Linked DNA regions of Homo sapiens. The protein of the gene in region 1 purifies or fractionates together with the protein of each later gene. This does not show direct contact. Each region holds a gene or a part of one and is shown in the gene's direction. Other genes may lie near its edges. The genes, in order: ACOX3, TSNAX, EIF4B, CAPZA1 and TIPRL.

Region 1 (3,896 bases):
ACCCTTTTTTATTTCTAATTACAATTAGGTTTCCTCTTCTGTCATTTTCGGGATGTCTTGTATTAGACTAGAGGTGATATGGTGGTTTGATGCTATTGCTGACTTATGACTTTTTGGTGTCTAAAGTCTCTTTTCACCTGTTCTTGTTGGATTCCCTCACCCAAAGGCAGAGCTTGGACGTGAGATCCACGCCCTGGCATCGGCCAGCAAGCCCCTGGCCTCGTGGACCACCCAGCAAGGAATTCAGGAATGCCGGGAGGCGTGTGGAGGACACGGCTATCTGGCCAGTAGGTTTTGGAGAAGCGCATGGTGGTTTCCTGTCCTTAGCCCTGCTGTTTGACTCTAGACCAGGGGTCGGCAGACTGCGGCCTGAGGACCAAATCCAGCCTGCCACCTGTTTTTGCAAATAAAGTTTTATTGGAACACAGCCAGCCACCCCCGTTCATTTGCACATTTCCTGCAGCTGTTTTCGCACTGCAAGGGCAGAGATGAGTAATCGCAGCTGTGACAGAGACCATGTGGCTTACAGAGCTGAAAATATTTACTCTCTGGTCCATTGCAGAACAAGTTTGCCAACCCCTGCCCTAGATAGATCCCACTGCTTTCAGATGCCTGATGCTTCTTGGCCAAAATATAGGCAGAGAGCAGCTGATCTGCTCATTTGAATTTTAACTATTTGGTTAACAGCTTGGTAGTAAACTAGCACCATGTTTTGTTTGAATAGAAAATTCTTACACTTAGATAAAGAGTTAGTTATATCGGCATTGATGATGACTGAGGCAGCTGTTATATGGTTAAGAGCGGAGGCCACCAGCTTGCCTGGGATTGAGTCCTGGCTCCATCTAACAGCCTGGTAACTGTGGGCAGGTTGCTTAACCTCACTGTGCTCAGTTTTCTTATTTTTAAAGTGGGGGTGATAATAGTGTACCCACAACATAGGTTCTTGCCAGAATTAAGTGAATTACCACGTATGAAGTGTAAGCATGGTATCTGGCATGTAGTGCGTGCCCAATGACTTTTTTATTTGCTAATGCTGTTATTATTAGAATTATCATCAGCATTATTTACAGCTTACCTGCAAAACTTCCCGTGTGCTAATCTTAAATAATTAACTGGCAAAAACTGGTTGCTCAAAGAAGGCCATGTACACACTCAAAACAGCCACAGCATCAGCAAAACTCTCTTGCCCTCCAGGAGCACTTGGTCCTTGCCAAGTTTGTGAGAGTTTTTGTGATGCTCTATCTAGAACTACACACACACTTTCAGCGATCATCCGCCCACCACTGCAGTTCTAACTCGCACCTGTTCCAGCATGGGCTGTTAGCAACGTGGCCCCTCACTCCCACCACAATCTGTCTTTGTCACTTACTGACATGCGGGTAGCCATGGCTGTACACAAGTTACTCATTTGCATGCTTTGTCCTCTGCGCAATGCCCTTAGTAGTTTTTGTCTTTGTAACTCATCGGGATTCTATAAATAGTTGAATAAGGAAATTGAATCTTGCAGTACTGCAGACAACAAAGATGATGGAATCAAGATTAATCATATACATATACATATACATATACATATACATATACATATACACATACATATACATATACACATACATATACATATGCTGGGATTGAGACCAATATGACCGAGGCTCCATCTAGGTTTAGAAAATCAATTGCAAATGTTTCTGCTGAGGCCTCTCCCAGCTCTTGTTCAGTGGCCAACCTGTTACGTGGCAGGAAGCTCGTGGCATGATTTGACAGTAAGTCAGGAGAAAATCAGGTGTTCTAGGTGATCACAAGGCTAATCACAAGCGTGTTGGCAGTATGGCTGCAATAGGACTCCTTTCATGCTCTCAGGATCCATCAGTCACAGTACGTGAGTGTGAGAAGTCAGCTCCACTCCCTTCCTGCTAGGCCCATCCCAGCCTCACATTCAGAGAACACTTTCCATCACAGTAGGCAGGCTCAAGTGTGTGAGGGTCTGGAAAGCAAGCCTGACAACATATGTGAAGGCATCCAGCTAACTGATAGGAAAGACAAAAAACAGTTATCTTGAAATTTCCTGTGTTAAAAGAAGAGTTCATTCAGTTATGGACGGAAGAAGGGTAGCCCTGGGGGCATCAGCTCGCTGAGATGGCTCCCTCCTATCAGCAACCCCATGCCAGGGGAGGCTCTGCAGGGCTTGCTGACAGCAGTGAGGAGCTGGAGGTGGGATATGAAGCACAGGTGGCAGTTCTTTGTGTCTGGTCAAGCTGAGTTCAGGGCTTTTTTTTTTTTGGTCAGAGTCTTGCCCTGTCCCGGAGGCTGGAGTACAGTGGCATGACCATGGCTTACTTTTGCCTCAAATGCCTGGGCTCTTAAGCAATCCTCCCACCTCAGCCTCCTGGGTAGCTGGGACTAAAGGTGCGTGCCACTATGCCCAGCTAATTTTTTTTTTCATTTTTTATAGAGATAGGGTCTCACTATGTTGCCCAGGCTGGTCTCAAACTCATGGCTTTTTTTGTTGTTGTTGTTGTTGAGACAGGGTCTTGCTCTGTCACCCGGGCTGGAGTGCAGTTGCGCAATCTCGGCTCACTGCAACCTCCGCCTCCCAGGCTCAAGCGATTCTCCTGCCTCAGCCTCCCGAGTAGCTGAGATTACAGGCACACACCACCACACCTGGCTATTTTTGTATTTTTAGTAGAGGTGGGTTTCACCATGTTGGTCAGGCTGGTCTTGAACACCTGGCTTCAAGTGATCCACCCGCCTCGGCCCCCCAAAGTGCTGCCATTACAGGTGTGAGCCACCGCACCCAGCCTCTTAAGGCTTTTTAAATTCTCACATAGTGACAGGCTGCTTCTCAAATATGCGTCTTAAATGATGGTACTATTGTGGCTTTGTTGCAGTGAACCGGTTGGGTGTCCTTAGAGATGACAACGATCCCAACTGCACATACGAAGGTGACAACAACATCCTGCTGCAGCAGACAAGCAACTATTTGCTGGGTCTCCTGGCACACCAGGTCCACGGTGAGGCTCTGCTGCACACTGGTGGGGGCGCTGGAACCCAACTGGGGCAGGGGTGGGTTCTCCTGGCCTCACTGATTCAGCTGTTCTGTGAATGCATCCTAGGTTTGCAGAAGGAAAGAAATGTTATTAGATAGTGCCGACCAACTCCCCAAGGCATGGGCAAAGGCTGGGGTGGGGAGGGTCCTTGAGACCCAGACCCTCGCCTGTGGGTCTGTGGCCGTCGGGTCCTCTGGACACTCTCTGTGCTTTGGGGTGCCCCCAGCTTGGGGTTCCCAATGGTTTGGGTTCCTGTCTTCCACCAAAGTCACTGGAATGTGTGTCCTAGATGGAGCTTGCTTCCGCAGTCCGCTGAAGTCAGTGGACTTTCTGGACGCCTATCCCGGCATCCTTGACCAGAAGTTTGAGGTCTCCAGTGTTGCCGACTGCTTGGACTCTGCAGGTAAACACACAGGTGGAGGGCTCCCCTGGCCTCCTGATTTCCTGTCATTCCCACCAGGAAACGCACCGTGCCTCGGTGAGGGGACCCTTGGCAGTTCCAGCCGGGGCAGCAGTGGTGGTGGGAGGCCCCGCATGCAGCTTGTCCTGGGCTGGCTCATGGACTATCTCTTTGTGCCTGACGCCGAGTTAGGCGCTGACTCCACAGATGAATTGAAGGATGCCCACTTGCCACCTTATACCTTGCCTCTTGCCTTTCCCTCCCATAGGATAAAGGGCGTGAGAGGCCACCTGGCCTGGTCTCTGTCCACTAAGCAGCCTCTGCCCCCTGCCCTGGTGCCTGGGCTGCTGCTGTCCCTGGGCCCTCCCAGCCACCTCACCTGTCAGTCTTCCCCACTCCCAGGCCCTGCTGGCTCCCCAAACAGCAGATGCCCCTTCCCGCCCTGGCGCACC
Region 2 (6,632 bases), on another chromosome or scaffold:
ATCTTAGCAAGAACTATTTTGTTTTAGAGATGTACCCAAGCTAGATTGAAGTAGGTTGAGAAGTGTGAGATGAAGTTATTGAGGAAATGATGTAGCCAGCTACTTCAAGAAACTTAGCTCTGAGGAGGAGGAGACAGATGGAGCAATAGTTGAGAGGAAATATAGGGTTCATGGATAGGACAGATCTGAGTGTGTTTCAGTATTTCTGTAAGATTCAGTATAGAACATAAAGTGAGAACACCTAGTATGTTAAAGGGAGAATTCATGTGAAGCTCCCAGCTGGTACTGAATCTTGATCCTGAACCTAATACAGTGACTAGCCACAGAAAATGGAACACCTTCTCTAGGTAGTAGGGCTGAAGGAGAAGTAATACCATTATTTATTTTCCTAATTCCTTATTGTATTCATCAGGCTCCAAACAGGAAACAGAAATTAGATGGTAATATGAACAGGGAAAGTTAAATACAACATACAGACTTATTAACCATATAGGGGATTATAAGAGTAAAAGAGAACTCTAAAGAGTACTGGAATCTCAGATAGAGTGAGCAGCCACTACCCCTAGGGCGGAGGCAGAGCACCCAAGGAACTAAATTTGGCAGAACCCAACCCTCACCCTTCACAGGATGAGGTCCAGACCATGCTGGAGAGGGTGGGCATGTCCCATCGGCTGGCAGAGACATTTGCTGAGCTGTTGTGCTGATGGACTCTCTGGGAAGCTGTCCATGGGGAAATGCCATGGAAAGGAATTCCCTGCCCAAGGAGGTGGCTTACTGGGAAGCCATTCTCTGGAGTACAAAAGAAGCTGTCCCCAGGCAGGTGCTACATGCTGTTGGCCACCTTGAAGTGCTGGCTGCCCCATACTCAGGGCTGTGAAGAGGGGCACAGCAGAACCAGGCAGAGAGCTCTTTACAGTTCTTTAAGCACCTAGCACCCTGTACTGACAAAGCTTAATATATTGCCAGCTGGCATAGGAGACATGCTTTAAGTATCCACCTCCTTCTTCTGAAATAATGGAACTAAGAGACAAAAATTGACAAGTGATACAGCTATTACTGGTCTTTTAACTTTAAAAAATTTTTTTTGCTGTAGTGACAAACATCCTTATATGTAAATCTTTGTGCATATCTTCTTGTTTAGCTCATAAGAGGCTAACCACATTAGAGCATGGAGATGTGATTATGCATCTTTACGTTTTGCTGTTTGCTTTTGTGTGCATGAAGTATCTTTAGAAGGAAATGAGAAATAGAGATTTTCTTTGGGGGGGAACTGGGCGGTGTCACCTATTCATAAAACTAAAAATTCATAAAATTAAACATTTAATTAAAAATATTTTTAATTATAAATATAAATGACATCATCTGTTTTGTTAAACTTAACCTCGTTAATGTTTAATTTCTCAGAACATTATGGTTTGTTAAATTGTCCCTTCTGACCTATATTTGGGCATCATTTGCAGCTCAGAATGAGTCAGGATATTTTCATTTAGTTAAGTTTCCTCTTAGTGCTATCAAAACCAGGGTCACCCATTTTCCCTTGTATCCTGGACCTTTGCCTGGCATTTGATGTGATGATACTACAGCTGTTAGCCTCCCCAACACTGTTGCTGCCATACCAGAAGTGTAGTGGCAGGTGGGGGAGACTTGTGAGTAGCAGGACTCTGTCATAAAAAATGTTAGAGAACTTAAATATCCTCTTAAGTTCTGAGTTTTCTTTGCATAATCAGAAATGTATTCTCTTGCTATTTTTACAACAAACCTTTAAAAAGTTTCTTAAACTAACAATAATAATTAAGAAATGCTTTTTCCCTGTATCACCTTTCAGATTAAGACATCAAATAATATTGAAAATTGTGGCTATAGAATATAGTTTGTTGTTGTTGTTGTTGTTGTTGTTTTTGAGATGGAATCTTGCTCTGTTGCCCAGGCTGGAGTGCAGTGGCACAATCTCGGCTCATTACAAGCCCCACCTCCCGGGTTCACGCCATTCTCCTGCCTCAGCCTCCAAAGTAGCTGGGACTACAGGCACCCGCCACCATGCCCAGCTAATTTTTTGTGTTTTTAGTAGAGACGGGGTTTCACCATGTTAGCCAGGATGGTCTCGATCTCCTGACCTCGTGACCCGCTGGCCTTGGCCTCCCAAAGTGCTGGGATTACAGGTGTGAGCCACCGGCGCCCGGCCAGAAAGTAGTTGTTTTAAAACACTTGGAAAAGTATAGTACTGTAGACATGTAACAAAATTGCACTTGTGCCCTTTACATTTATATAAACATTTTTAAAAGTATTTAAGTTACATTTTGATCTTTACCAAAATTTACTCTTCAATTCAAGGGTTGTTTCTGTCTTGTACAAAATTGTATTGCATAGCTCTCTTTTTTTTTTCTTAAACTACCAAAGCAGAAAGGAGTTATCTAGTCTTAGATCCATTTTGAACTATGAAAAGATAAACGGTATTTTGACACTTACCTACATTAGTTAAAAGTGATTTTGCCTATTAAAACTTTAAGAAAGATCCAAATTATTATTATTATTATTATTATTTTTTTTTTTTTGCGACGAGTCTCGCTCTGCCGCCTAGGCCGCAGTGCAGTGGCATGATCTTGGCTCACTGCAAGCTCTGCTTCCCGGGTTCACGCCATTCTCCTGCCTCAGCCTCCTGTGTAGCTGGGACTACAGGCGCCCGCCACCACGCCCGGCTAAGTTTTTTTATTTTTAGTAGAAATGTGGTTTCACCATGTTAGCCAGGATGGTCTGGATCTCCTGACCTCGTGATCCACCCGCCTGGGCCTCCCAAAGTGCTGGGATTACAGGCGTGAGCCATCGTGAACGGCCCAAATGATTCTTAATTTTATGTCTCATTTGTTTGAATCATTGCTTCGTTACCCAGCAAAATAAAACAAATTAATTTATATAATTTTTATTAAAGCCTATCAAAATTATGGAATAGGCTTTTCTTTTCTCCCCCCCCCCCCTTTTTTTTTTTTTGAGACGAAGTCTCGCTCTTGTCCCCCAGGCTGGAGTGCAATGGTGCGGTCTTGGCTCACTGCAACCTTCGGCTCCTGGGTTCAAGCGATTCTCCTGCCTCAGCCTCCCGAGTAGCTGGGATTACGGGCTCCTGCCACCACACCCGGCTAATATTTTTTGTATTTTTAGTAGAGATGGGGTTTCGCCATGTTGGCCAGGATGGTCTCAAACTCCTGACCTCAGGTGATCCGCCCACCTCAGCCTCCCAAAGTGCTGGGATTACAGGCGTGAGCCACCGTGCCCGGCCAGAATAAGCTTTTCTTAAATCCTAATTACTTAAACTCTTAAAAAAATTTTTTTTCTGGCTGGGCACAGTGGCCCAGAGATTACAGGCGCCCGCCACCATGTCCAGCTAATTTTTGTATTTTTAGTAGAGTTGGGGTTTTACTGTGTTGGCCAGGCTGGTCTCCATCTCCTGACCTGAAGTGATCCACCCGCCTTGGCCTTTTAAAGTGCTGGGATTACAGGCGTGAGCCACCGCGCCTGGTCCCCAGGCCATTCTTTCTATTCTAAGTGTCTAGTCTAGTACTGGCATTGTAGTAGGCATCCATTAAGCTTTTTTTTGAACTAGATGATGATCAATATGAAGTTTTTTTATTATGACATTCTTACTAATTAAGTGCTTATTCTTAGTAATTTTCTTTGTCACGCTTTCAGGACTACAGGAATATGTGGAAGCTGTCTCTTTTCAACACTTCATCAAAACACGATCATTAATTAGTATGGATGAAATTAATAAACAATTGATATTTACGACTGAAGACAATGGGAAAGAAAATAAAACTGTGAGAATTTAAAATTTATTTCACATTTGTTATATAATTTATGTAACAGTATGACGATTCTAGTAGATTTACTGGCTTATGCTAAGATTGAGATGGGAATGTTCTTTCTAAAGTATGGTTTTGTAGAGTCTCAACTAGGAAATGGTCTTTTTAAATATTTCAGTTAGTGGATAGAACAAGAACAACTCTGGGCATATTGGGAAAGTAATGCTCTTTACCTAAAGCATTATGGAGTGCTTACTGTAAGTCCTCTTTTGGTTTTACTCTCTATTTTTCACTTGCCCTTTGTAAGCACTGTCTTATTTAATCCTTTTATTAACCATATGTGGTAAGCATTATTACTCTCATTTTACAGAGAAAGAAACAGACTTTTAGAGAGGTTAAGTAACTTGCCAGAAGCCACAACTAAAAAGTGTGGCAGAGCTAAGATTTGAAGTTAGGTATTTTGAATCCAAGCCTGTGCCCTTGTCCACTCTGCCAGCGCTTCTCACAGTGTGCTACAGGGATCCCTTGCATCAGGTACCTACCTCAAAGGGTTGTTTTAAAGGATTTGACTTAAAGGTTATTAATTAGGCAATATACAGCAGCACCTGACACGTAATATACATTATATACAGCACCTGACACGGAAGTGCTCAGTAGTTTGCCATTATAAAGTAGTTTTTATATAGTGAGAGCTGTTAATCATTTACTCAATTCATAATGCTTATATCTGAAATTTATGTAGCTTTTCTGAATTAAGAAAAACTTTGCAGTTTGACTTTTAAACAAATACTATTTTTTTCCTTCTGGGTTTCAAGATATAACAGGCAGTAAGGTAAGCTGTATTGACTATTTGATACTTTCTGAGATACCAGTACACTTAAAATTAAATATTTTAAAATAATTTATATTATTTAAATAATTGTTTAAATATTAAATTATTAAATTATTAATTTAATTTACTAAATATTAAATATTTAATTATTTTAAAAATTTTCTTTATTTTTTCTTTTAAAAATTATTTTTAAAAACACCATATATTAAGGATAGGTAGGCAGGAGATGGAAGACACTGTAGAAATAATATTTTCTTGAATATCAACTAAAATATTAATACAAATGAGACTAATTTGGCATGACAGGTATAACTTACTTTAAGGAAGCCATGTATTAACTTTAAGTTATATGAAGTGTATTAAGGAGGAAATTTATTTTGAGAAGTAAAATTTCTTCATATTTTTTATTCATATAGTGTAGACTGAATTACACAAAGAAGTAAAGTAGGTCTATTTGACCCTGCTTCTCACGTGATATTAGGGAAGTTACCACACTTTCCTTTAAAGTTCTCTGTGTATCAAAATGAAAATATTGGGGAAAAGGCCAGAAAATTGAGAGTCAAAGTACTGTTTTCAGGACTTAGGTACCAGATTATTTTAAGATTATGGGGCTATAATATTCATATACATGTTTCAAATTGTATAAGACTATGTTCATAAATAAGTTTTAGTGCTAAAGATGCTTGGTGCTGAAATTTCTGGGAATTTGATTGGGAAAGGTATTTTGCTCTGACTTGCCTGTTGAGAATATTGTCAAAACTATTTAATTTTTATTTTAAAAAGTTTTGTGAAAAATTTCAAACATGCAGAAAAATAGAATGGAAACATTAGTGCCACTAACTAGCTATCATATTCCCATAGCTCAACGTCATATTACCTGTGATGTTTCTCGGACCTCATTTCTCATGCTAAATGATGAGGACGTTGCACCAAATGGTCTCTGCAGAGTCCAAACAGTGCTAGGATTCAAGTATTAGATACATAGCAAAGAGTGATCTTAATAAAGCTGTCTCCCTTGTCTCAGCTTATATTTATGTAACTTCCTTTAAACTTTACTCAAAAGAATTATCTCATTAGTTCCTCAAATGCACAATTCTTACCTGTATGCCTTTGTAGTTCCCACTACCTAAAATGTCCTTTGATGTAACTGCAACTTCACCTACCCTTTTATACATACCGTCTTTTAATAACAATTTAGGCATCGTCTCTACCAGAAAGAATTCAGTAGAGGGAAATTGATGTGGAGAGAGATTTCATGATGATATCATGATAGCAGCTAGCATTTGTTGAATATTTACTTTGTGTTGGGCATTATGCCAAGAACTTGGTAAATGTTCTCATTTAACCCTTAAAATAAACCTCTGAGGTAGGTACTGTTATCCCATTTTACAGATGAGGAAACTGAGGTTTAGAGAGATGAAATAACTTGCCCAAGGGCATACACCTTATGAAGCAAGGTCCTGGAAGAGGTGGGAGGAGATGGGTCAAGGTCATTTGGAAGAGTTAACCTCAAACAAGAGGAGGGACAACTCATCATCTGAGACTGGAGGATAGAAGGTAAAGATGGGTGTGGATATAAATTTTTTTTTTTTTTTTTTTTGGTAGGGATAAAGGCAGTTGTGAGAAATTGTGCTAGGTAAGCTGGCAAATGACCAGGTCACTGAAATTGGGCAAGGTTGTCTACTGAAAGTGAAGAGGTTTGGGATTTGAGTAGAGCCCTGAGGAGAGTGGTGAAAGGTTTGAAATTGTGTTTGAAGAGGCTGGAAAGAGAACCATCTAATGATAAGTAAAAGGATTGGAGAGTAATTTGTAGCGGTACAGACTCTGCAGTTGTGATTACCATTTTTTTTTAACTCAGTGAGTGGTACTCAGCCACCTGAATAAAGGACTAATGAGTATATTTTAGTATTGATTGAGGATTCTGTTTTTGCTGGGTAGGTGCAGTAGAAAATATAGCAGTCTAAGGGAATTGAGGATGCAGTGAGAGAATAATAAATTGTGATGGT
Region 3 (6,632 bases), on another chromosome or scaffold:
TTTTACCGAGTTGAGGGAAATCCAGACTGATAAAAGGGATTTACTCTGACGTCCCATTCTCTTGTTCTTCCATATTTACTCTACCCCCTTGAAAACCCTCATCTCCTTTAATTCACTTCAGTAAATCTTTTTAGCTGGTACTGGTATCTGAGCACAAGTCACATCTTTCAGTCTGTTCTTGAGGAATCTGGGGTTTATCGGATTGTTTCCCCGCTCCTCTTTCCAGTCACACTGGCTTTGTGAAGTAACCAGTATTCCCTGATGTGGGAAATGGATGTTATGTGTTCTGTGTGAAAATACATAAAACAACTTCATACGCCTCTTTTACTGTTAAATGAGACCAAAAAATTCTTTGCAGCAATACCAGTTTCCAGTGTGATCCATTATTGACCTTCAAGAACTAAGGTAGGTCTCAGAACTAACTATAGAATGAGGATAGTTTGAATTCCTAGAAACTTGATACATTGAGCCAGTACACTTAATTCCTTGCTTTGCTTCTTAAAAAGAATTCTTAAAGGCCGGGCGCGGTGGCTCACGCCTGTAATCCCAGCACTTCGGGAGGTCGAGGCGGGCGGATCACTAGGTCAGGAGTTGGAGACCAACCTGACCAACATGGTGAAACTCTGTCTCTACTAAAAATACAAAAATTAGCTGGGCGTGGTGTCGCGTGCTTGTAATCCCAGCTACTCCGGAGGCTGAGGCAGGAGAATCGCTTCAATCTGGGAGGGGGAGATTGCAGTGAACCGAGATTGTGCCATTGCACTCCAGCCTGGGCAAAAGAGCAAGACTCCATTTCAAAAAAAAATCTTAAAAATACGAAGTTTTTCATTTTTCTTAAATTTTCATTGTGACTACTTTAGTAGACTTGCCAGTAATAAGCCAGTTACCGCTTGAATCTCAGTTTCTTTATCTGGAAAGTGGTCATTATTTATCTGCTGTCCCCTTACCTAGAGGGAATCAAATGCGTTTGATACAGGTTAACATTTAAAATGCTTTCAAATTGGGCAGGGTGCAGTGGCTCATGCCTGTAATCCCAGCACTTTGGGAAGCTGAGGTGGGTGAAACACCTGAGAACAGGAGTTCGAGACCAGCCTGGCCAACATGGTGAAACCCAGTCTCCACTAAAAATACAAAAATTAGCGGGGTTTTGGGCTGGGCGTGGTGGCTCACGCCTGTAATCCAGGAGGCAGAGGTTGCAGTGAATTGAGATTGCACCACTGCCCTCCGGCCTGGGCGACAGAGCGAGACTCCGTCTCAAAAAAAAAAAACAAAAACAAACTTTAAAATTGGAAATAACATATGTAAGCTCATGCACAGGCCTTTCATTTCCATAATGCTTCAAAATGCAGTCCTGTGTGACATCTTATTTGATTATTTTTATAGGGAGAAGATGCTCTGCAGTGGTTGTTTTCATACACTGCTGACTCTCACAGTGAAATGGTTTTAAGGGGTGCCATTATATATTGCTTACAGATTCCCTAGTGTCAAGTTCCATCCTCTATCATGTATATGTTATTCTGTGAGTAAGATACCCAGAAGGCCAAAATTAAAACTCTTTATGAAAGTTTAAATACAAATACAGAATAGTGTCAATTAAGATAAAGCAGTGTTTCTAAGTAATGTCATTGAAAAAAGAGGTATATTTCATCTCAAAACATTCTGGAATTCTCTTTTCGTGATGGTAGAGGAAATAACTGAACTTGAGTACAGTATTTTAAGTAATTATTTGTAATTAGGTTTGCCTTATGTACATTTATGAGCCAGTTTCTTAAATTTGTAGTAGATACTGCTATGGTCCTGATAGTGGGAAAGTACCAAATCAAGAAGTTTAACTTGAATTTGTGTACCTCCTGTCTCCCATTTTGTGTAATGGTTAGCATGGCATGCATTGGGCACTTATTTTGTTTGATTATGTATATGATCAAATTGAGTATCCCTGGAGGGATAAGGAAAAGGTAGTATGGCATCTTCTGTCAAAATGAAGTAATTGGGCACAGAGAGGTCATGTAACTGAACCCGTACGGGGGTCAAGATGGTGGAGCTTATGAGTTTTGACTCAGTCTTTACTATGCTAAACTTACCCAATCCCCAACTAAATCAAAAGGTGGCTTGCACTGGGATCTTTTTGACTTTACAATGGGTTTATCCGGATAGTAAATGCATTTTTTTACTTGAGAAGGGTTTATCCTGACAGTCTCATCATAAGTCAGGGAGCATCTATATAGTGCAGTAAAGGTGAAGGTGAAATATTGTATTACATTGCATGAAATGTCTTTTCATGGCTGGGCTGTAAACACCAATATAATTAGTCTAATTCTAGGCACTCTGGGTGGATCGATTGTGTTTATGCAATGTTGTTGGTTTAGGGAAACATTTGTTATTCATTATTTAAAGTAGCTTTTGTTTTGTTTGTTTTTGTTTTTGTTTTGAGACAGAGTCTCACTATGGCTCAGGCTGGAGTGCAGTGGCGTGGTCTCAGCTCACTGCAATCTCCACCTCCTGGGTTCAAGCGGTTCTAGAGATGGAGTTTCACCATGTTGGCCAGGCTGGTCTCGAGCTCCCGACCTCAGGTGATCTTCCCACCTTGGCCTCCCGGAGTACTGGGATTACAGGCATGAGCCACCACACCTGGCCTAAAGTAGCTTTTAATTATGGAGAATGTGGCAGAACTCACTTTTAGTAACAGCTTTATTCAATGTAATTTGTATACCATAAAATTTACACTTTTAAAGTATACAGTTTGGACCGTGTGCAGTGGCTCACTCCTGTAATCCCAGCACTTTGGGATGCCAAGGCAAGAGGATCACTTAAGCCCAGGAATTCAAGACCAGCCTAAGTAACATAGTGAGACCACGTCTCTACAAAAAAAATTTTAAAAATTAGCCAGGGGTGGTGGCATGTACCTGTGGTCCCAGCTACTTGGGAGGCTGCAGTGGGAGGATTGCTTAAGCCCTGGAGGTCAAGGCTGCAGTGAGCCATTATCTCACTACTGTACTCCAGCCTGGGTGACAGAGCAAGACCCTGTATGATTTGGTGGGGTTTAGTATATTCAGAGATGTTCAACCATCATTATTATCTAATTTCAGAACCTTTTTATCACCCCCAAAGAAAAGTCCTTTATATAGGACTAACAATTCCTTTTCATTTATCTTTTTATTTATTGAAGTGAAACATCACTTAGAACATGGTTCTCAGCTAAGGGACAGTCTTTTCATCCCAAACCCTCATCCCACCCCAGAGCATTTGGCAGTGTCCAGAGACGCTTTTGGTTGTCAGAGTGGAATGGGGATCGGGGATTACTATTGGCATCTAATGAGCAGAATCAGAGATAACTGCTAAAATCCCCCCATGACAAATTACCTAAGCTAAAATATCAGCAGTGCTGAGATAGAGAAACTCTGAGTTAAGAAGTAGGCTGTATTTATTTTAGTATCTATTATAACAAATCCTGTTTATTAAGAAAACCATGAATGTGTTGTCTCTTGTTTAACGGCTTCTGGACTTAGCAATATTTCCGTTTTTAAGATCTTTTATTAAACCTGTATGGGTATATAAAGAGCTGGAGGTGTGTTTTCCCCACTGTAGACCATGTATAAATAATTGGGACAGGTTTTGTTTTGTGAGGTGATTGATTTGTTAACTTTTTAACCAGTTCACATAAGATTTAGAGAAAATTAAAGAATTGGACCAGTTCATTGTTGAATTGCAAAGGATTGATAAACCTGGAGCATTAAACAGTGCTTTACTTATAAAGCAGAGGGAACACTGTTGAAATCTAAACATGTAATGGGCCTAGGTATTGAGGGAGCAAAGGGCATGGAGGATTTAGATAACATCTTTTCTCAGTTAACTGGAATGAAACGGAGTGGAACAAACACGGGCACCTACTTTAGGTTTATTGATTTTGCTTTCCAAGGGCTAATTCCTTTAAACCTGCTGCTTATATTTTGACTGAGTCAGTGCTGCTGCTACAGTTAAATAAGTTGAAGATCTTGTAAGGAATTTTAGCCTGTTTTTTTAAGACTCATCTAACAGGTGGGGCGCAGTAGCTCAGGCCTGTAATCCCAGCACTTTGGGATACAGAGGCGGGCAGATCACCTGGGGTTGGGAGTTGGAGACCAGCCTGACCAACATGGAGAAACCCCATCTCTATTAAAAATACAAAATTAGCCAGGTGTGGTGGTGCATGCCGGTAATCCTCGCTACTTGGGAGGCTGAGGCAGGAGAATCGCTTGAACCCGGGAGGCGGAGGTTTCGGTGAGCCGAGATTCCACCATTGCACTCCAGCCTAGGCAACAAGAGCAAAATTTCTGTCTCAAAAAAAAAGACTTATCCAACAGTAATTTCTTTTTTTTTTCCTTTTTTTTTTTTTCTTTTTTTTGTGGGGGACGGAGTCTCGCTTTGTAGCCCAGGCTGGAGTGCAGTGGCACGATCTCAGCTCACTGCAAGCTCCGCCTCCCGGGTTCACGCCATTCTCCTGCCTCAGCCTCCCGAGTAGCTAGGACCACAGGTGCCCGCCACCATGCCCGGCTAATTTTTTTGTATTTTTAGTAGAGACGGGGTTTCACCATGTTAGCCAGGATGGTCTCGATCTCCTGACCTCGTGATCCACCCGCCTCGGCCTCCCAAAGTGCTGGGATTACAGGCGTGAGCCACCACACCCAACAGTAATTTCTTAACCAGAGGGCCTGGGAGTGGGTGGCAATCAGAGGAGGGGGAGACTTGTGATTTGAAAAGACATTCTAAGATTTAAAAGTGCTTTTAATATTTTTTAGTCATGATATTTAATTTGTTTGGAAATTTCAAATAACGTTAAAGAAGAAACTTGTTTGTCAAAGGAGTCAAGGGGTGAGAGTTGAGAAACTGTGATCTACAAAGTTGATTTAAGCCAAATCGGACTAAAGGGCAGATTAATTCCACATTCTGCTGTTTTGGTAGAAGATACGTATATAGAACAAAGAGGAAAGGGATACCTTATTCAGATTGTTAATGTTCTTTTGTTGAACTTGACCTTATTGTACTGACCACCAGTTCTGTTTTTATCCTCCCAGTGGAAGGACAGGTTAATAATTGGATATTAGCTGATGGTACTAGATTAAGCCCCATGAGGGTAAGGATCTGTAGCTAGCATCATATTAATCCCAGACACTATTTTTGAATTAAATGATATGAAAAAGTCTAAAATAAGCCCACGCACTGTAAGTGGTTTACCTCATGTCTTACTCGTGTTCGCTTATTAAAATCTCCCATAGATCTTTGCATATGAGGCTGGGCACAGTGGCTCATGCCTGTAATCGCAGCATTTTGGGAGGCCGAGGTGGGTGGATCATTTGGGGTCAGGAGTTTGAGACCAGCCTGGCCAACATGGTGAAACCCCATCTCTACTAAAAATACAAAAATTAGCCAGGCTTGGTGGCACATGCCTGTAATCCCAGTTACTCAGGAGGCTGAGGCAGGAGAATCACTTGAACCTGGGAGGCAGAGGTTATAGTGAGCCAAGATGGCGCCACTGCACTCCAGCCTGGACAAGAGTGAGACTCCCTCTAAAAAAAAAAAAAAACCTTTGCATATGAGCTGCAGCAATAAAAGTGCTATGAGACCCAACCTCTCTGTAACCGTATTCTTTGAAAGCTGTGGAATAAGGCCAAGTGCAGTGGCTCACATCTAATCCCAGCACTTTGGAAGGCTGAGACGGGTGGACCACTTGAGGCCAGGAGTTGAAGACCAATCTGGGCAGTGTAGCAAGACCCCTGCCTCTACAAAAAATTTTAAAATTAGCTGGGCATGGTGGTGCATGCCTATAGTCCCAGCTACTCAAGAGGCTACAGTGGGAGAATTGCTTGAGCCCAAAAGGTCAAAGCTGCAGTGAGCCACGATTGCACCACTGCAAAAAAAGAAAAAAGAAAAAGCAGGCCGGGCGCGTTGGCTCACGTCTGTAATCCCAGCACTTTGGGAGGCTAATCACGAGGTCAGGAGATCAAGACCATCCTGGCTAACACTGTGAAACTAAAAAAAAAAAAAAAATTAGCCTGGCGTGGTGGCACGCGCCTGTAGTCCCAGCCACTTGGGAGGCTGAGGCAGGAGAAATTGCTTGAACCTGGGAGGCGGAGGTTGCAGTGAACTGAGATCGCGCCACTGCACTCCAGCCTGTATGACAAAGCGAGACTCCGTCTCAAAAAAAAAAAAAAAAGCGTAGGATGGATTCAAAATGTGATCTGGTTGATCATAAACAATACTTTTGGAGCTGGATTAATATTAAGTCACTTGAGAGATACAGAAAATACCATGTTCGTGGTCAACTTTGATTATTTTAGCCGGGTTCATCTGGTTTGCACATTGAGACCGTAATACTTCAGGTTCTAATTGTGTCCAGAAGGCTATGTGTTAACATTCATAGCAAACTGGTTACCTTTATTTCCTGAAAGTTAAATTTTGAAAGAAAGGGATACCAAGTGAGAAAGCAACCTTCAGTTAAACAAAGGGGTACATCAAGTTTGATATTCTTGGATTAAAAATCAGGTGACAATTGGAACATGGAGGAGAAATTCATGATTATAAAAACCATGAAGCCAATCTTTTTTACAACAAAGCTGCTTGTTTTTTTCTTAATCATGTAGTGGCTGCTATCAGGC
Region 4 (3,500 bases), on another chromosome or scaffold:
ACGTGTAATCCCAATACTTTGGGAGGCTAAGCCGGGACGATCACTTGAGCTCAGAAGTTTGAGACTAGCCTGGGCAACATAGTGAGATCCCGGTCTCTACCAAAAAAAAAAAAAAAATTAAAATGGTGGGACAGGGCACAAGTAAAAAGTCGCCTCCTGCCCCTGTCTTCCACCCACCCAGTTTCCCTGACAAGTAGCCAATATTACCAATTCCTCTTGTATCTTTTCTAATTCTATGCATATACAGACACACTTTTCACTTAATAATATCTCTAACCTGTCCACATTCCATCTACCATTATTTTCACTCAGGACCTTTTTTTATGCTTGAATTATTTTTAACAACATTTTTAATTATCTCTCTGCCTCAGGCCTCTCCTTTCTTTATACATCCTTCCTGGTTTATCATAAATTCTTCACAGCTATAACGTATTACAAAATTTTGAGCAGTGTGTAAAATTTATCTTTGGTACAACTGCACATACAGATTGTTAAGGCAGTGTCAGTGAAATGGAACATTGATCGAATTCTGTTGAGTGTAGTCATGGTATAACATACTGTTTAAACAAGAAAACAGCATAATGGCAGACTGTAGCAAAGGAAGGTGGTAAGAGAACTTTGCTTTGTGGATTCTTTGTTTTACATCTGGGTAACATTTAAGTGCTTCTTTTGTGCTAACTATGTATTAACCATGTATTTATCTCACAACATCCTTATAGGACAGATACTTATGCCCATTTTACAGTAGAGTAAACTGAGGCACAGGCACATTTGAGGTTAAAATATATGACCCAAGTGTCCAGAACTAATAAATGGCAGAGTGGATACAATGCTGTTGTCTGCTGTCAGAGCCTATGCTCTTACCCATTTTGATTCCTTTAAGTAGATAGTAAGATAGTAAGCAGTTTTGATGAAATAATGACATAGTCCTAAACAGCAACCAAGTTAATCATGTAGTAACCTGGATGCCTTTATAGACACTGAAACATTGGTGTTCTGTGGTCCTGATTGCATTATAATTGTTGCTGAATGGCCAGGTGCGGTGGTTCACACTTGTAATCCCAGCACTTTGGGAGGCTGAGGCAGGCGGATTACTTGAACCCAGGAGTTCAAGACCAGCCTGAGCAACATAGTGAAACCCCATCTCTAGAGAAAATACAAAAATTAGCCCAGCATAGTGGCACACGCCTGTAGTCCCAGCTACTTGGGAGAATCACTTGAACCTGAGAGTAGGAGGTTGCAGTGAGCCGAGATCATGCCATTGCACTCCAGCCTGGCCTGGCCGACAGTGCGAGACTCTGTCTCAAAAAAAAAAAAAAAAAAAAAAAAAAAAAAGAAGGGCCAGGCGTAGTGGTTCACGCCTGTAATCCCAGCACTTTGGGACTTTGGGAGGCTGAGGCAGGCGGATCACCTGAGGCTAGGAGTTTGAGACCAGCCTGACCAACATGGAGAAACCCCGTCTCTACTAAAAATACAAAATTAGCTGGGCGTGATGGCGCATGCCTGTAATCCCAGCTACTCAGCAGGCTGAGGCAGGAGAATAGCTTAAACCCAGGAGACGGAGGTTGCAGTGAGCCAAGATTGCGCCATTGCACTCCAGCCTGGGCAACAAGAGTGAAACTCTGTCTCAAAAAAAAAAAAGTTGCTTAGTGCTCTTTGAGCTTAAGTATGCCGTGAAGAGTTCTAGTATTTATGCTGTGTTATTAAACAGGTGTTGAAAAACATGGCTCTAGAAATTTAAAGATCACTAAAGTCCCCGTAACAAGGCCAAGGAGAAACTTTACAGTATGACAGTATCTTAGAACATCCTTGCCTATGGCAGAATCTGTGTTTCCTTCAAAAACAGATTTCTGAGTTCCATCCTAGGTATATTGAATCAGAATTTTTTGGAACCAGTTGTCAGGAATTATTTGTAATAAGCCTCCCAATAATTATTGGAATACTTGAGAACCATTATCTTAGTGAACTTGCTGTGGTTCAAATCTTAGTCCTCTGCTTATTTAGCTCAGAAGCTTGATTGATCAGGATACTAAACCAGGTCTCTCTCGGGGATAAACTCATTTTAGCTAGGCTTATGAAACTAATGTATAAAACTGGAATAACAATTTAATACATATAGAAGGAACTAAGTTCTTTTTTTCAGATAGGTCAGGAACATGGGAAATCAAGTTAGAATGTTTTAATGGAGCATAGAATTAGAACAAAGGAAGTTAACTAGATAGTCCAAAGTATTGATGGCATTTTGTTTCATAATAGGCATATGTACCCAACACCAAAACCAAGTCACGTCTTTGTATAACAGCATTGGACATTTTTCCTCTAGATAGGTTCATTTGTTATCACATTACTAGCAGGGGAGTTTTGCAGGACTGGTTATGTGTCAAAATTTTGCATACTGCAGCTTCTCCTACAGTCTGCCCGCCCTTGGTTAATGACACTTCCATTCTTTAGTTGCTCAGGTCAAAAACATTAGTGTTATCTTTGACTACTATTTCTTTCACAATCCACTTGTTGTCCACTGGTAAATCCTGTAGGCTCTGTCTTTAAAATAAACCCAGAATTTGACTATTTCTTACCACACCCTTATTCTAACCACTCTGGAAGAAGCCATTGTGACCTCTAGATTATTAAAATACTATTTTTTATGGTTTCCCTGCTTCTGCTGTTGCTCCTGCCCAGCAGTCTGTCCTCGATGAAGCATCCAGAGTGATCTGGTTAAAATGTAGGTCAGTACATGTCACTTTTCTGCTCAAAGCCCTCCGGTGGCTTCCCATCTTTTTCTAAGTCCCTATGTTCTGGGATGTTACCTCTTTGCCATTTATCTCTGACTTTATCTCCTACATGTTCTTCTTCTGGTCTTTGTTCCAATCACGTATTCTCGCTGAATAATCTTTGCATTTGTTCTTTTCTCTGGAGTTCTTTTCCTTCTGTATCCCTCATTTCAGATACTTAACCAGAAGTCATCTCCTTAGTGAAGCTTTCTCTGGTTATTCTGTCCAGTTGCAAATCCTAACATTTCTTGTCCCTTTTCTTTGCCTTGTTTTTTCTCCTTAGCATTTATCACTTGCCAGGTAGTATTTTACTTAATCTTCTCTGTTGTCTTTACCCACTAGAATGTAAACTCCATGAGGACAGTATGCTAGTGAGTCACCATTGCCTAAAACATAGTGGGTCTTCTGATATTTGTTGAATGCATGAATCTTGCTTGGATAGCATCTGTCTTGATTTCATTGTTAACTCTCATAGGGCAGTCTGATTTCCAAGTTTTGTGAGGCCATATTGAGGACTCCAGTACTTCTGTATTACTGATAGATTTTTATTAATGGAGCTTTGTCCTCAGAAAGCTTTAGCAAGTGGCCATTGCCAATGACATACGGAATGAAACCAGATTTGGTATTACCATCATTACTGCTATCTGACTTACCTTAGTTCATCCTTCTCTTTTATTCTCTCCAAATCCTCTGTTCTACCAAACAAGAGAGTGTTTTCCCACTACCTTT
Region 5 (6,632 bases), on another chromosome or scaffold:
TCAGGAGTTCAACACCAGCCTGGTCAACATGGTGAAACCCCATCTCTACTAAAAATACAAAATTTAGCCAGGCATGGTGGAGCATGCCTGTAGTCCCAGCTACTCGGGAGGCTGAGGCAGGAGAATTGCTTGAACCCGGGAGGCAGAGGTTGCAGTGAGCTGAGATCACACTACTGCACTCCAGCCTGGGCGACAGAGCGAGACTCCGTCTCAAAAAAAAAAAAAAAAAAAAAAAAAAAAAGAGAGAGATTCATGGTAAATAACGCTAGGAAGATGGAATTGGTAGGTCTTATATTGTGAAGTTAGCTGCATTTTGAAATCTTATAGTATGACTGAAAGGAAGCAAATCTGGGCTGGGCTCAATGGCTCACGCCTGTAATCCCAGCACTTTGCGAGGCCAAGGAGGGCAGATTACTTGAGGTCAGGAGTTCGAGACCAGCTTGGCCAACATAGTGAGACCGCACCTCTACTAAAAATGTAAAAATTAGCCAGGCCTGGTGGCGTGTGTCTGTAATCCCAGCTACTTGGGAGGTTGAGGCAGGAGAATCACTTGAACCCAGGAGGTAGAGGTTGCAGTGATCCGAGATCACGCCACTGCACTCTAGCCTGGGCAACAGAGAAAGGCTCTGTTTCAGAAAAACAATAAGTAAAATAAAATAAAGCAAATTTGGTTTAGGTTGAATGTCTCTAAATATCACAGACTATTATATAGAATGAATTTATTTCAGCGTAACCTGAAATATTTATATTAAAAGTAGCTATTGGAAACCCTATGTCATCCGGGCACAGTGGTTCACACCTGTAATCCCAGCACTTTGGGAGGCCGAGGCAGGCAGATCACCTGAGGTTAGGAGCTGGAGACTGGGGAGGCTGAGGCAGGAGAATTGCTTGAACCCAGGAGGCAGAGTTGCAGTGAGCCAAGATCACGCCACAGTGCTCCAACCTGGGCTTCAGAGTGAGACTCCATCTCAAAACAAGGAAACCTGATATCATATGTTGGTGCTTAGGCAGAAATGTTAAGAAGATAGTGTTGTGTCTGGGCCCCTTTTCTCTGCAGAAATTTTTAGAGTCTCATGAAGATAAAAGTTCATAGCAGGAACTTAATGATTGTTATCTTCAGTTTCTGCTATTATTACAGTCCAAGCTTTAACTATTTTTCTGTGCTTCCAGGAAAAAACTCATTCATTCATTCAACAGATATTTCTTGAGCTCTTGCTCTATGCCAGGCACTAATGCTAGGAGCCTTGGATACAGCAGAGCAGACAAAAATTCCTCCTTTACAGTCTAATGGGAGAGCAAGGTTATTTTAGTCCCTTATACTACTTCATAGATTAGTGTTCTCCTCCCTCCTCTCTTCTGATTGAAAAACTTTGTAGAGACCATTTAATATTTCATTGCCAGGAGTGAGGAAATGGGAACTTGTTTTAAACCCATACAATAATGATGATGACTTACTTTGTGGACTGACTTAGGAAAAGCCTCCTGGAGGTTATGAAGCAGCATTAGGTGTGACCAAGTGAGAACCACAGCTGTACAAACAAGGAGTGTGAGAGTAGTAGAAGGCAAAAAGCATTTGTTCAGTACTCTCCTATTGATACTTCAGCCTATAATGTGATTTGTTCTGAGGTGTTGCTGATAAATGTCAATGTGATTACCCACTCACTGGTGGTAATGAGCTCAGGCTTTGGCAAAACACAGATCTGGGTTCAAAATCCCAGCACCATCATTTGCCAGCTTGGAAAAGTAATTTAGTCTTACTTAGCCTTGTTTCAGTCACTTTGTTAAACTAGGGTAATACTAGTTGTGAAGTAGGAAATAAAATTATGTATGTAGGCTGGGTGTAGTGGCTCATGCCTGTAGTCCCAGCACTTTGGGAGGCTGAGATGGATCACTTGAGCTCAGGAGTTCAAGACCAGTCTGGGCAACATGGTGAAACCCCATCTCTACAAAAAATAGAAAAATTGGCGGGTCTGGTGGCACGTGTCTATAGTCCCAGCTACTCAGGAGGCTGAGGTGGGAGAATCAGTTGAGCCCAGGAAGGCGAGGCTGCAGTGAGCTGTGATTGTGCCACTGTACTCCAGCCTGGGTGACAGAGCGACACCCTATCTCAAAACAGTGTGTGTTTTGCAGTAAGATCTCAATAAATGGCAGCTGTTACTATGATAATATAGTATATCAAGTATTAGGGAACCTAAGTTAATATTGTAATACCTAGAATAAAAGTAGATATATTATCTATGGTATATTATTATATTAAATAGCAGCCCAAATGGACTAAGGCCTAATAATTTCAATCACCTCTGGAATCCCTAGTGTCTTTTATTTCAGTTGGTTCTGGGTTATGACATCTAGGCTTCTAATTTGCCTCTTTATTTTCATTTCAGTTCTAGGATGATGGTGTTTTCCTTCAGAGAGGATTTTTGTTTAGTTCTGACAGGCGCTCGAGAATATTCATAGTCAAGGACAGAGCTCTGCAAACTTCTTCTGTAAAGAGTCAGACGTAAATATTTTAGGCTTTGTGGGCCTTAGAGTCTCTGTTGCAGCAACTCAGCTGTGCTATCATAGTCTAAATCACTCATAGACAATATATAAATGAATGGGCATGGCTATGCTTTAATAAAACTTTATGGACAGTGAAATTTGAATTTCATGTAATTTTTATGTGTCATGAAATATTTTTCTTTTGATTTTTTTTCTCCAATTATTTAGCCATTATTAGCTTGCAGCCCATAAAAATAGGTAACAGGGCAGATGTGAGCTGCATGTCTTAGTTTGCCTGCCTTGGTCTAGGACCAGAGTTTGAGGTGTACTGGGCCTGCAGATAAGAAGCTCTGAGGCTGGGCACAGTGGCTCATACCTGAATCCCAATACTTTAGGAGGCCGAGGCAGGCGGAACACCTGAGGTCAGGAGTTCGAGACCAGCCTGGCCAACATGGCAAAACCCTGTATCTACTAAAAACACAAAAAAATTAGCCAAGCGTTGTGGCATGTGTGTGTAATCCTCGCTACTTGGGAGGCTGAGGCACAAGAATTGGTTGAACCCAGGAGCTGGAGGTTGCAGTGAACTGAAATGGTGCCACTGCATTCCAGCCTGGGCAACAGAGCGAGACTCTGTCTCAAGAAAAAAAAAAAAAAGTTCTGAAATCACTATAGCTCTTTAGGGTGTCATCTCTGATTTGGGAGGAAGCAGGAAATTCTCCAGGGTCCTTGTCCTTAGTGAGCACTGAGCAGTGATGGCACCAAAAGCTAGCAGAGCCCAGCTTCTTCTCTGGATCAGCCAGTGCTATGCCTCAGGGCAAAAGCCAGCCAAGTACAGACTTACTTTTCTCGGCTCCAGTCTTTCCAGATCTCAGCCCAGTAACTCCATACTGCCTTGGCCATTTGATGCTTTTAGGAAGTTTTTGGGTTTTTTTAGCCAGCTTTTTAAATTGTCTTCATCAAGAAGGTTTGTCTAGATTACTTATTCTGCCAATACTGTTCCATATGTTTTTTATTTTTTTGAGATAGAGTTTCATTCTTGTCGCCCAGGCTGGAGTGCAATGGTGTGATCTCAGCTCACTGCAACCTCTGCCCCGCGGGTTCAAGCGATTCTCCTGCCTCAGCCTCCTGAGTAGCTGGGATTACAGGTGCCTGCCACCACGATCAGCTAGTTTTTGTATTTTTAGTAGAGATGGGGTTTCACCATATTGGCTAGGCTGGTCTCAAACTCCTGACCTCAAGTGATCCGGCCGCCTTGCCTCCCAAAGTGCTGGGATTATAGGCATAAGCCACCGCGCCCAGCCCATATGTTTTATATTTAGCTGGTTATTTTTTTTTTGTTGTATTTTTTAGATCCCTGGGTTCAGAGAGAGATATGTGGAGTTGAGGAAGAGAGCTGAAAAGTATAAAGTTTTAGACATATTTAGCCTTGCAAATGGAGACAATAGCATAAATAAGTTAAATATGATATCTCTAACTCATGCTTTGTTTTTTGACTTTGTCTTTCATTTTATAAGAACAAGTACGTAAATGGAAAAACTGACAGATTCATTTTGACCAATCACTTACTGAAGGCATATGTGAAACATTAATGAAGCAATTTACTAATGAGAAAATTCAGATAATGATTAATTTTGGGGGATTCAGGAGTATCTATAAGGAGGATGTTAAAAATGTGTTCCTCTGAACTAAAATCAAATAAAAAGGACGAAATTTACAAGTGTGTGTATTTAACACTAATTTCAGTTGTGTAACCTTAGGCAGTCCTCGTTGGCAGACCAACTTTTGTTTAACTAGATCATAAACTTAATGTGTGATGCAGGGGACTGGTTATATGCCCTGCCCCTACACTCCAACTCCCTTCCCCTCCCAGTTTTCACCTCAAGAGTGGCCTTATACCTGCTCCGTACACAGTTGGAAGTAAAACTGCTTAGGGCTAAGTGTTATCTCTAAGTGACCATGGAAGAATTATGGACATTTTTTTACCTCCTGGAAATCATATACAAACTGCCACTTTCTTTTCATGGCATCTTTTCCCCCTACATTACTTAACGTTCCCTTAGATTTCCTCCCAAAATCTGTGCAGTCTTGTAAACAACATCCTTTGTAATTTTCTTCTGATTCTTATCTAGTTATCTCAAATTACTCTCCATCTGCTAATTTTGTCCATGAGTCAAAACAAATCACCTAATCATGACGCTTAAGTAAAGCTACATTTACTAAATATCTATGGTTTGACAAGCATTGTTGTGTTTGTTTATGGTAAACCTGTCAAGGAGTAAAACAGCTGAGCATTTTGTAGTGAAATTAGGTGTGGTAGAAAATAGTATCACAATTCATACTTGGGTGCTGCTCAGGAGACACTTGAGTTTAATGAGCTCCTGATATGATCTGCCTTGGGACTGTTGATGCTTTTGTTGGATTACGTGTGTGCATGTCTTAGAGCTACAAAATAATACCTTGAAAAATTGCCAACTTCATTCAAAGCTCTTTGCAATGCTAAGAGTTTCCCTCAGAATTTCTCTACAAGTTCTTGTTTACCTCATTATTTAAAGCACTTTATTTTGTTGTAGGTTTTGGGGAGTTAGGTTGAGCAAATATCTAACATTCTAATGGAAAAATATTTTTTAAGTTCCATATGAATGTCCTAAAAGTGGCTTTCACAGCACAAATGTTCTATGACCTTCTATGATAGCAGTCGTTCATCACACTGACTGATGTTTAGTTGATTAATTTTCTCATAGTCACAACAGAAGTTGATTTTAATATGACTTGCATGAAAAATGATAAATTTTTACTGCTTTTTTTGTGAAGCTATAATATTGGGCATCTGTAATGTCTTCAGTTTTCAGAATCAAGCCATATTCTGATCTTTTATATCTACTAATGACACCCAAATTTAGAACTGTGTGCTCTGGCTATGTAGAAAAGACTGATTGAAAAAGAAAAGAAAAGACTGCTTTCCTGTGTCTCTGTAGCTCCTCAACTTTTTTTTTAATGTGCTCCTCTTTAAAATTTTTTCTTTCAGGTTGTACCTACAACAGATCATATAGATACAGAAAAATTGAAAGCCAGAGAACAGATTAAGTTTTTTGAAGAAGTTCTCCTTTTTGAGGATGAACTTCATGATCATGGAGTTTCAAGCCTGAGTGTGAAGATTGTGAGTATTATTTTTATTTAAAATTAATATTTTTCTTGCATTCTTAACATCAGACAAAAATATGACTCACTTTGAATAACACTGAGCCTGGCCGGGCGCGGTGGCTCACGCCTGTAATCCCAGCACTTTGAGAGGCTGAGGCGGGCTGGATCGCCAGGTCAGGAGACCGAGACCATCCTGGCTAACACAGTGAAACCCCGTCTCTACTAAAAACACAAAAAGTTAGCTGGGCATGGTGGCGGGCGCCTGTAGTCCCAGCTACTCGGGAGGCTGAGGCAGGAGAGTAGCGTGAACCCAAGAGGCGGAGCTTGCAGTGAGCCAGGATCACGCCACTGCACTCCAGCCTGGGCGACAGAGCAAAAAAAAAAAAAAAAAAAAAAGAATAACACTGAGCTTTAACATGATGTCATGTACAATTTCACTTGAATCTAGAGTGTATCTTATTGAATATCCATTATAAAATTCACAAAATATTTGTGTATTCTTAAGGCTTTATTTTAGCAAAGCATTTTTAATAGACCTGCCTGGCCACCTTGTAGTTTATTTGTTTATTATTTAACTCTAATGAAGACTGTGGCTTAATTTTCACATTTTGGATTAAAAATGATGTTGATAGGATCTGCAGACGGCAAGGTGGATGTCATTTTTTAAAATGATCCATGTGTTATGATTTCAGTGCATCATTCAACTACCACTTCAATTTTCAGCCTGGTGGCGGGCACCTGTAGTCCCAGCTACTCGGGAGGCTGAGGCAGGAGAAGCGTGAACCCGGGAGGCGGAGCTTGCAGTGAGCTGAGATCGCACCACTGCACTCCAGCCCTCCAGCCTGGGCGACAGAGCAAGACTCCGTCTCAAAAAAAAAAAATAAAATAAAATAAAAGAAGTAGAAAACACACATAACAAGTATGGTTATTCATATTTCTTTACCACTGCATTATAATTGGGTCTCTAATACTTTCCAGAAATAACTCAACTGAAACTTTTTACTAAATGC

What was found.
Region 2: the proteins of ACOX3 (region 1) and TSNAX fractionate together in Homo sapiens (co-fractionation; one large-scale study listed by BioGRID). This does not show direct contact.
Region 3: the proteins of ACOX3 (region 1) and EIF4B fractionate together in Homo sapiens (co-fractionation; one large-scale study listed by BioGRID). This does not show direct contact.
Region 4: the proteins of ACOX3 (region 1) and CAPZA1 fractionate together in Homo sapiens (co-fractionation; one large-scale study listed by BioGRID). This does not show direct contact.
Region 5: the proteins of ACOX3 (region 1) and TIPRL fractionate together in Homo sapiens (co-fractionation; one large-scale study listed by BioGRID). This does not show direct contact.

Annotation. Positions count from the first base shown.
Region 1 is NC_000004.12:8,388,724-8,392,619, reverse strand, and holds part of ACOX3 (peroxisomal acyl-coenzyme A oxidase 3), read left to right. Parts: intron 1-166; coding exon 167-287; intron 288-2,885; coding exon 2,886-3,008; intron 3,009-3,333; coding exon 3,334-3,447; intron 3,448-3,896. UniProt on the Homo sapiens protein: Oxidizes the CoA-esters of 2-methyl-branched fatty acids.
Region 2 is NC_000001.11:231,557,447-231,564,078, forward strand, and holds part of TSNAX (translin-associated protein X), read left to right. Parts: intron 1-3,681; coding exon 3,682-3,809; intron 3,810-6,632.
Region 3 is NC_000012.12:53,008,239-53,014,870, forward strand, and holds part of EIF4B (eukaryotic translation initiation factor 4B), read left to right. Parts: intron 1-6,632. UniProt on the Homo sapiens protein: Required for the binding of mRNA to ribosomes. Functions in close association with EIF4-F and EIF4-A. Binds near the 5'-terminal cap of mRNA in presence of EIF-4F and ATP.
Region 4 is NC_000001.11:112,626,332-112,629,831, forward strand, and holds part of CAPZA1 (F-actin-capping protein subunit alpha-1), read left to right. Parts: intron 1-3,500. UniProt on the Homo sapiens protein: F-actin-capping proteins bind in a Ca(2+)-independent manner to the fast growing ends of actin filaments (barbed end) thereby blocking the exchange of subunits at these ends.
Region 5 is NC_000001.11:168,185,863-168,192,494, forward strand, and holds part of TIPRL (TIP41-like protein), read left to right. Parts: intron 1-5,506; coding exon 5,507-5,638; intron 5,639-6,345; coding exon of another isoform or gene 6,346-6,366; exon of another isoform or gene 6,367-6,533; intron 6,534-6,632. UniProt on the Homo sapiens protein: May be a allosteric regulator of serine/threonine-protein phosphatase 2A (PP2A). Isoform 1 inhibits catalytic activity of the PP2A(D) core complex in vitro. The PP2A(C):TIPRL complex does not show phosphatase activity.